Homo sapiens: one gene and its partner. The gene in region 2 interacts genetically with the main gene of each other region. Each region holds a gene or a part of one and is shown on either strand. Other genes may lie near its edges.

Region 1 (3,820 bases), on a different chromosome or scaffold from region 2:
ATTTTTTTTTAAGTTTCTAGTCTATCACAAGAGATATTAAATCTATAATTATATAAGGTACCACTTCATCTAGTTTTCAGTATAGTATACCAGAATTTTTTAAGTTTTCAAGCTCATCACAAGAAAGAATGAATCTATAATTCTGTTACTGAATCTAAGGTGTCACTTTTTCTTGAAGGTTTTATTTTTGAATTTAAACTACAAAGTCAATTTCCTTTCAAATGCCTTAAAAGATAAGCTATATTTCCTTCAACTGTGCAATACATAGACACACAAAAACATTATTTGAGGTGACCTGAATCTTTTCCTCTTACAGACGTAATGTATGTAGGGTCACCAGCAATAGGATAATGTTGACCAGGCAACGAAACCAAACATTAAAGACTGAATGTCTTAGTCTGTACAAAATAAACTTCGCCAAGCCAAATGCACTGATAGAATACCATTTATGCTGTCAGACAGTACCTATTTATTCTTTATTTGCATTCAGATCTAATAACTATTCTACCTAATATCTGTGACCACACAAGCTCCACGAGGACAGGAATTCTTGTGTTTTGTTCTCTGCTATGTAGACAATTATCTCAATTCTTGGCACATCATAAGCACTCAAATATTCAACGGTATTAGTAATGTTTTATTTCTTAACGAGTGGTTAGTATATGAGTGTTATACTATTCTTTTGTTGTTGTTGTTGTTGTTGTTTTTGAAGACGGAGTCTCGCTCTGTCACCCAGGCTGGAGTGCAGTGGCGCAATCTTGGCTCACTGCAACCTCCACCTCCCAGGTTCAAGCGATTCTCCTGCCTCAGCCTCCTGAGTAGCTGGGATTACAGGCATGCGCCACCACGCCTGGCTAATTTTTGTATTTTTAGTAAAGATGGGGTTTCACCATGTGGTCAGGCTGGTCTCAAACTCCCGACCTCATGATCCGCCCACCTCAGCCTCCCAAAGTGCTGGGATTACAGGCGTTAGCCACCGTGCCCGGCCTATACTAATCTTTATCTCTTTTGTCTTAATCATTTTTTTTTTTTTTTTTTTGAGATGGAGTCTTGCTCTGTCACCCAGGCTGGAGTGCACTGGCGCAATCTCGGCTCACTGCAACCTCCGCCTCCCAGGTTCAAGCAATTCTCCTGCCTCAGCCTCCAGAGTAGCGAGGACTACAGGCATGCACCACCAAGTGCGGCTAATTTTTGTATTTTTGGTAGAGATGGGGTTTCCGCATGTTGGCCAGGCTGGTCTTGAACTCCTGACCTCAGGTGATCCGCCCACCTCGGGCTCCCACAGTGCTGGGATTACAGGCGTGAGCCACCGCGCCCAGCCAATTGTAATATTTTTTAAAAGCACTAAATACATTTTACAAACCTCATAGCATTGCAATTATTCGGAAAGTCATCCAGAATAGAGTTACGAAATAAATATACAAAAATAGAACCTGAACTCATTCAGATTTATGACTTTTATTTTGTAGGGCACACCCTCAAGCTACCACTCAGCATTACTGACTCTCAACTCATACAAAATTCTCACAACCTTGGTTATCTGATTTCTCAAAACCACAATGAATCAAAGTGACTTTAAGAAAGCAGATATACGGATAGAAAAGATAGCAAATTCCAAAAGAAGAAATAAATTATTCTAAGAAAGCAAGGAAATATTAAGTTTTTAGAAAATTATATTTTCAATATTGCTAAGTTTGAGGGTCCTTAAAAGATAAATTACTTTATGGCCCTGGGCATGCTTTCAGATAAGTTATACATTCAATGGTTTGTTATTTTTTATTTTTTTCATATTTAATTAAATCAAGGGTTATTGCTAAGATCTCTTACTTTTATATCCTCTTAGATTATTTTATACTAACAACATTATATTCAAAGGTAATAGTGTCTCACTTATATAAATTTGCTAATTAACCTAAGTTGTTTTGTGGTTGTTATGGTTTTTTTTTTTTTTTTTTTTTTTTTTTTGAGACAGGGTCTCACTCTGTCGCCCAGGCTAGAGTGCAGTGACATGATCATAGCTCACTGTAACCTCCAATTCCTGGGCTCAAACAATCCTCCTGCTTCTGCCTCCTGAGTAGCTAGGACTACAGGCATGTGCCACGACCCCTGGTTAACTGTTCTTTTCTTTTTGTAGAGATGGGGTCTCACTACATTGCCCAAACTGGTCTCCAACTTCTGGACTCAAGCAATCCTCCCAACTCAGCCTCCCCAAGTGCTGGGATTACAGGCTTGAGCCACTGTGCCTGGCCTAACCTAAGTTTTAACACATAGTTTCATAATCAATCAACTAATCTGTATTGGGAATAGGAAGAAAAAATGAAAATAAACCAACCTAAAAAGTGATCAAAGTTTTATACTCATCAAATTATATAACTTATAGAGGCCTTAGAAATTGTGTACATAAACTCCCAATTTTATAAATGAATAAATTGAGGGCCAGTCGCAGTGGCTCATGCCTGTAATCCTACCACTTTGGGAGGCCAAAGAAAGTAGATCACTTGAGTCCAGGAGTTCAAGACCAGCCTGGGCAATGTGGTGAAACCTCATCTCTACAAAAAAAAAAAAAAAATACAAAAATTGGTTGGGCGTGGTGGCTCATGCCTGTAATCCCAGCACTTTGGGAGGCCAAGGCAGTCAGATGGCTTGATCTCAGGAGTTCGAGACCAGTCTGAGCAACATAGTAAAACCTCATCTCTACCAAAAATATAAAAAAATTAGCCAGGCATTGTGGCACACACCTGTGGTGCCAGCTACTTGGGAGGCTGAGGGGGGAGGATTGCCTGAGCCCAGGAGGTGGAGGTTGCAGTGAGCTGAGATCTTGCCACTGCAACTCCAACCTGGGCAACAGAGTGATATCTCATCTCAAAAATAAAAATTTTAAAAATAAAAAAAAATTACAAAAATTAGCCAGCTGTGGTGGCGTGTGCCTGGACAGAGCAAGACCTTGTCTCAAAAAAAAAAAAAAATTAATTAATTAAAAAAAGTGAGGTACAGCACTGTGGCTACATTACATGCTCCCTTGCTTCTCTAATATGTAAATTCTAGTATCTAACAACAGAGATTACTTTTTCAGAATAACATAAAATGACTAACAAACCTGTTTTAAACCAGGAACTTAAACAGAAATTTAATACTGCCATATAAAATCACCCCAAGGTGTTAATTGAGTCCTTAGGCATTTTAAGATGCTATATGAGATTCTGTGTATGATACTAAAAAGTTTTTAAATGACCTTTGTATTTGAAGATCATATGGCTGAGAAGACAAAGGGGAAGATTAAAAATAAAAAGTTAATATGTCAAGTGTTAAATTACAATATGGTCAGGTGCGGTGGCTCACGCCTGTAATCCCAGCACTTTGGGAGGCTGAGGTGGGCCAATCACTTGAGGTCAAGAGTTCGAGACCAGCCTGGCCAACATGGTGAAACCTCATCTCTACTAAAAATACAAAAATTAGCCAGGTGTGGTGGCACGTGCCTGTAATCTCAGCTACTCGGGAGGCTGAGGCACGAGAATCACTTGAACCTGGGAGGCAGAGGTTGCAGTGAGCTGAGATCCCGCTGCTGCACTTCAGCCTGGGTGACAGAGCGAAATTCTATCTCAAAAAAAAAAAAAAGTATTAAATTACAATAATACAAAAACAAAAGTTATGATAAAACTGAACAATATAAGCAATATGATAAATGAAGAGGTAATATATTAACTCAAAAGAGAGTAAGGCCAGGTGAAGTGGCTCACACCTGCAATCCCAGCACTTTGGGAGGCCAAGGAAGACGATCGCTTGAGGCCAGGAGTTCAAGACCAGCCTGGCCAACACGGAG
Region 2 (3,820 bases):
CTTCAAGCGATTCTCCTGCCTCAGCCTCCCGAGTAGCTGGGATTACAGGCGTCCACCATCATACCCGCTAATTTTTTTTTGTATTTTTAGTAGAGATGGGGTTTCACCATGTTGGCCAGGCTGGTGTGGAACTCCTGACCTCAGATGATCCGCCCGCCTCGGCCTCCCAAAGTGCTGGGATTATGGGTGTGAGCCACCGCGCCCGGCTTTGCTTTGCTTTTTTGCAATAGAACACACCCCTCCAACCCTGCGTGTCCGGAGTGGCCACAGGCTGCCCAGCCAAAGGCTACATTTCCCAGTGTGCGCTGCCAGGAGGGCCACGTGACTAAGTTCTCCCTCCAGGAATGAGAGTGATCATGAGGTGTGCAGCTACTGGGACATCCTCCCACCCTCTTCCCCGTCACAGTGGCTGGAACATGGATGTAGTGGGAGAGCCAACCACAAGGACAGGGACAACACTGGGCTCCCCAACAACCTTCCAGAGCAAAGCTGTCTGCCAACCCTGCACACTTGCCTATCTTCCAAAGCGTTATGTGGAGAAATCAATTTGTATCTTTCTTGGGCCACTGTGTTTTGGGGGCTCCTTGGTACAACAGCTTAGACCTGAAATAAGCATGGAAAAATTCTGAACTGATGGAGTATATGTTAGAAATGTTCAGGGAGGTTCATAACAGACACTCAGCATTAGAGAGGGGCCAGCTCCTGACAGACATGCAACACGGATGAATCTTGAAAGCAGGCTGTGCAGAAGGCAAAGTGCACACTGGGGGAATGAGGAGTGACTGCTTACGGAGTATGGGGTTTTCTGTAGGGGTGATGAAATGTTTTGAAACTAGACAGAGGTAATGGTTGTACAACACTGTGAACGTACCAACTGAATTCTTTGCTTTATTATTACTTTCTCTCTTTATTGAGACAGGATCTCACTCTGTTGCCCAGGCTAGAGTGCAGTGGCATGATCTCAGCTCACTGCAGCCTTGACCTCCCGGGCTCAGGTGATCCTCCCACCTTGGCCTCCTGAGTAGTTATGAAGACAGATGCGTGCCACCATGCCTAGCCAATTGTTTTTTGGTAAAGACGGGTTTTGCCATGTTGCTGAGGCTGGTCTGAAACCCCTGGGCTCAAGTGATCTGCCTGCCTTGGCCTCCCCAAAGTGCTGGGATTACAGGTATGAACCACCACGCCCAGCCATTGTTTGCTTTAAAATGGCTAATTTTACCTCCATAAAAATTGTACAATACCATTTAGACAAAGTTGTAGAATACACTAAAGTGATCTACAGCGCTAGAAATCAGACTAGTGGCTGCTCCTAGGGTAGGAGAGACTGGGAAGGGTATGAGGGGGTTTCTGGGGTGATAAAACACACTATACAGCTGACTGTACACTGGAGACCTGGGCATGGCACGCCATGTAAATGCCACCTCAATTATAAACATAAAAGTTTGGAGGCTCAATTCCACATCTAGGGACGTACACTGTAGATATATTATCACATAAGAAAAACTGCATTTATAAGGTTATTTCCGGAAGCATCGTTTGAAATCCCCAAGGACTGGAAACCACCTAACTGTCCTCCCCCAGGGGGCTATTTAAATATGTTAAGTCCGTTCAATGGAATACTATGCAACTGTGTAAAGGAATGAGGAAGCTCTTTGTGTACTGATAGGGAAGGTTCTCAAAGAGGCATTGTTCAGTAGATAAAGCAAGATGCACAGTGGTGCACTCACAATTTTATCTTTTGTGTTGAAAAACAATGTCTAAGAAAACGTTTACCCTGATTCTAGTCATTAAGAAACAAACAGCCTGGGTGCAGTGGCTCACGCCTGTAATCCCAGCATTTTGGGAGGCCAAGGAGGGTGGATCACTTGAGGTCAAGAGTTCCAGACCAGCCTGACCAACATGGTGAAACCCCATCTCTACTAAAATACAAAAATTAGCCAGGCGTGGTGGTGGGTGCCTGTAATACCAGCTACTTGGGAGGCTGAGGCAGGAGAATCACTTGAACCTGGGAGGCAGAGGTTGCAGTGAGCTGCGATCACGCCACTGCACTCCAGCCTGGGTGACAGAGCAAGACTCTGTCTCAAAACAAAACAAGAAAAAGAAACAAACGAATCCAAGGTGAGGGGTGACAACACTGGTCTGTAATCTTTAAAACTGTCGATGTCATGAAAAAGTAAGTTGCCTGGGCTAGGAGGCTCACGTCTGTAATCCCAACACTTTGGGAGGCTGAGGTGGGATGATCACTTGAGGCCAGGAGTTAGAAACTAGCCTAGGCAACATGGTGAGACTCCATTTCTACAAAAAATTAAAAATTAGTCAATCTCTACAAAAAATTAAAAATTACTTAAGCATGGTGGTGCATACCTACAGTCCCAGCTACTTGGGAGACTGAGGTGGGAGGATCACTTGAACCTGGGAGGTGAAGGCTGCAGTGAGCCATGACTGCACCACTGCAATACAGTCTGGGCAAGAGAGCAAGACATGTCTTAAAAAATGAAAAAGTTGCCATGACAATGTGTGTTATCCTAGGTTAGAACTTGGATTAAAAAAGTAAAATGATGGGCCAGGTGCAGTGGCTCACGCCTGTAATCCTAGCACTTTGGGAGGCTGAGGCAGGCCGATCACCTGAGGTCAGGAGATTAAGACCAGCCTGGCCAACGTGGTGAAAACCCCGTCTATACTAAAAAAAATACAAAAATTAGCTTGTCATGGTGGCGGGCGCCTATAATCCCAGCTACTTGGGAGGCTGAGGCAGGAGAATCGCTTGAACCTGGGAGGCGGAGGTTGCAGTGAGCCAAGATTGCGCCATTGCACTCCAGCCCGGGCAACAAGAGCGGGGGAGTGGGAAAAAAAAAGACCTCTCCCTCTCCCTCCCCCTCCCCCTCCCCCCTCTCAGTCTCCCTCTGATGCCGAGCTGAGGCTGGACTGTGCTGCCGCCATCTCGGCTCACGGCAACCTCCCTGCCTGATTCTCCTGCCTCAGCCTGCTGAGTGCCTGGGATTGCAGGCACGCACCGCCATGCCTGACTGGTTTTTGTATTTTTTGGTGGAGACGGGGTTTCGCCGTGTTGGCCGGGCTGGTCTCCAGCTCCTGACCGCGAGTGATCTGCCCGCCTGGGCCTCCCGAGGTGCCGGGATTGCAGACGGAGTCTCGCTCACTCAGTGCTCAATGGTGCCCAGGCTGGAGTGCAGTGGCGTGATCTCGGCTCGCTACAACCTCCACCTCCCAGCCGCCTGCCTTGGCCTCCCAAAGTGCCGAGATTGCAGCCTCTGCCCGGCCGCCACCCCGTCTGGGAAGTGAGGAGCATCTCTGCCTGGCCGCCCAGTCTGGGAAGTGAGGAGCGCCTCTTCCCAGCCGCCATCCCGTCTAGGAAGTGAGGAGCGTCTCTGCCCGGCTGCTCATCGTCTGAGATGTGGGGAGCGCCTCTGCCCCGACGCCCCGTCTGGGATGTGAGGAGCGCCTCTGCCTGGCCGCCACCCCGTCTGGGAGGTGTACCCAGCAGCTCATTGAGAACGGGCCATGATGACGATGGCGGTTTTGTCGAATAGAAAAGGGGGAAATGGGAAAGGAAAGAGAGATCAGATTGTTGCTGTGTCTGTGTAGAAAGAAGTAGACATAGGAGACTCCATTTTGTTCTGTACTAAGAAAAATTCTGCCTTGGGATGCTGTTAATCTACGGCCTTACCCCCAACCCCGTGCTCTCTGAAACATGTGCTGTGTCCACTCAGGGTTAAATGGATTAAGGGCGGTGCAAGATGTGCTTTGTTAAACAGATGCTTGAAGGCAGCATGCTCCTTAAGAGTCATCACCACTCCCTAAT

The links.
Region 1: changes in POLD1 (region 2) and COPS4 together harm fitness more than expected from each alone (negative genetic interaction), as found in Homo sapiens cells (one large-scale study listed by BioGRID).

What each region holds. Positions count from the first base shown.
Region 1 is NC_000004.12:83,041,664-83,045,483, reverse strand, and holds part of COPS4 (COP9 signalosome complex subunit 4), read right to left. Parts: intron 1-3,820. UniProt on the Homo sapiens protein: Component of the COP9 signalosome complex (CSN), a complex involved in various cellular and developmental processes.
Region 2 is NC_000019.10:50,390,758-50,394,577, reverse strand, and holds part of POLD1 (DNA polymerase delta catalytic subunit), read right to left. Parts: intron 1-3,820. UniProt on the Homo sapiens protein: As the catalytic component of the trimeric (Pol-delta3 complex) and tetrameric DNA polymerase delta complexes (Pol-delta4 complex), plays a crucial role in high fidelity genome replication, including in lagging strand synthesis, and repair.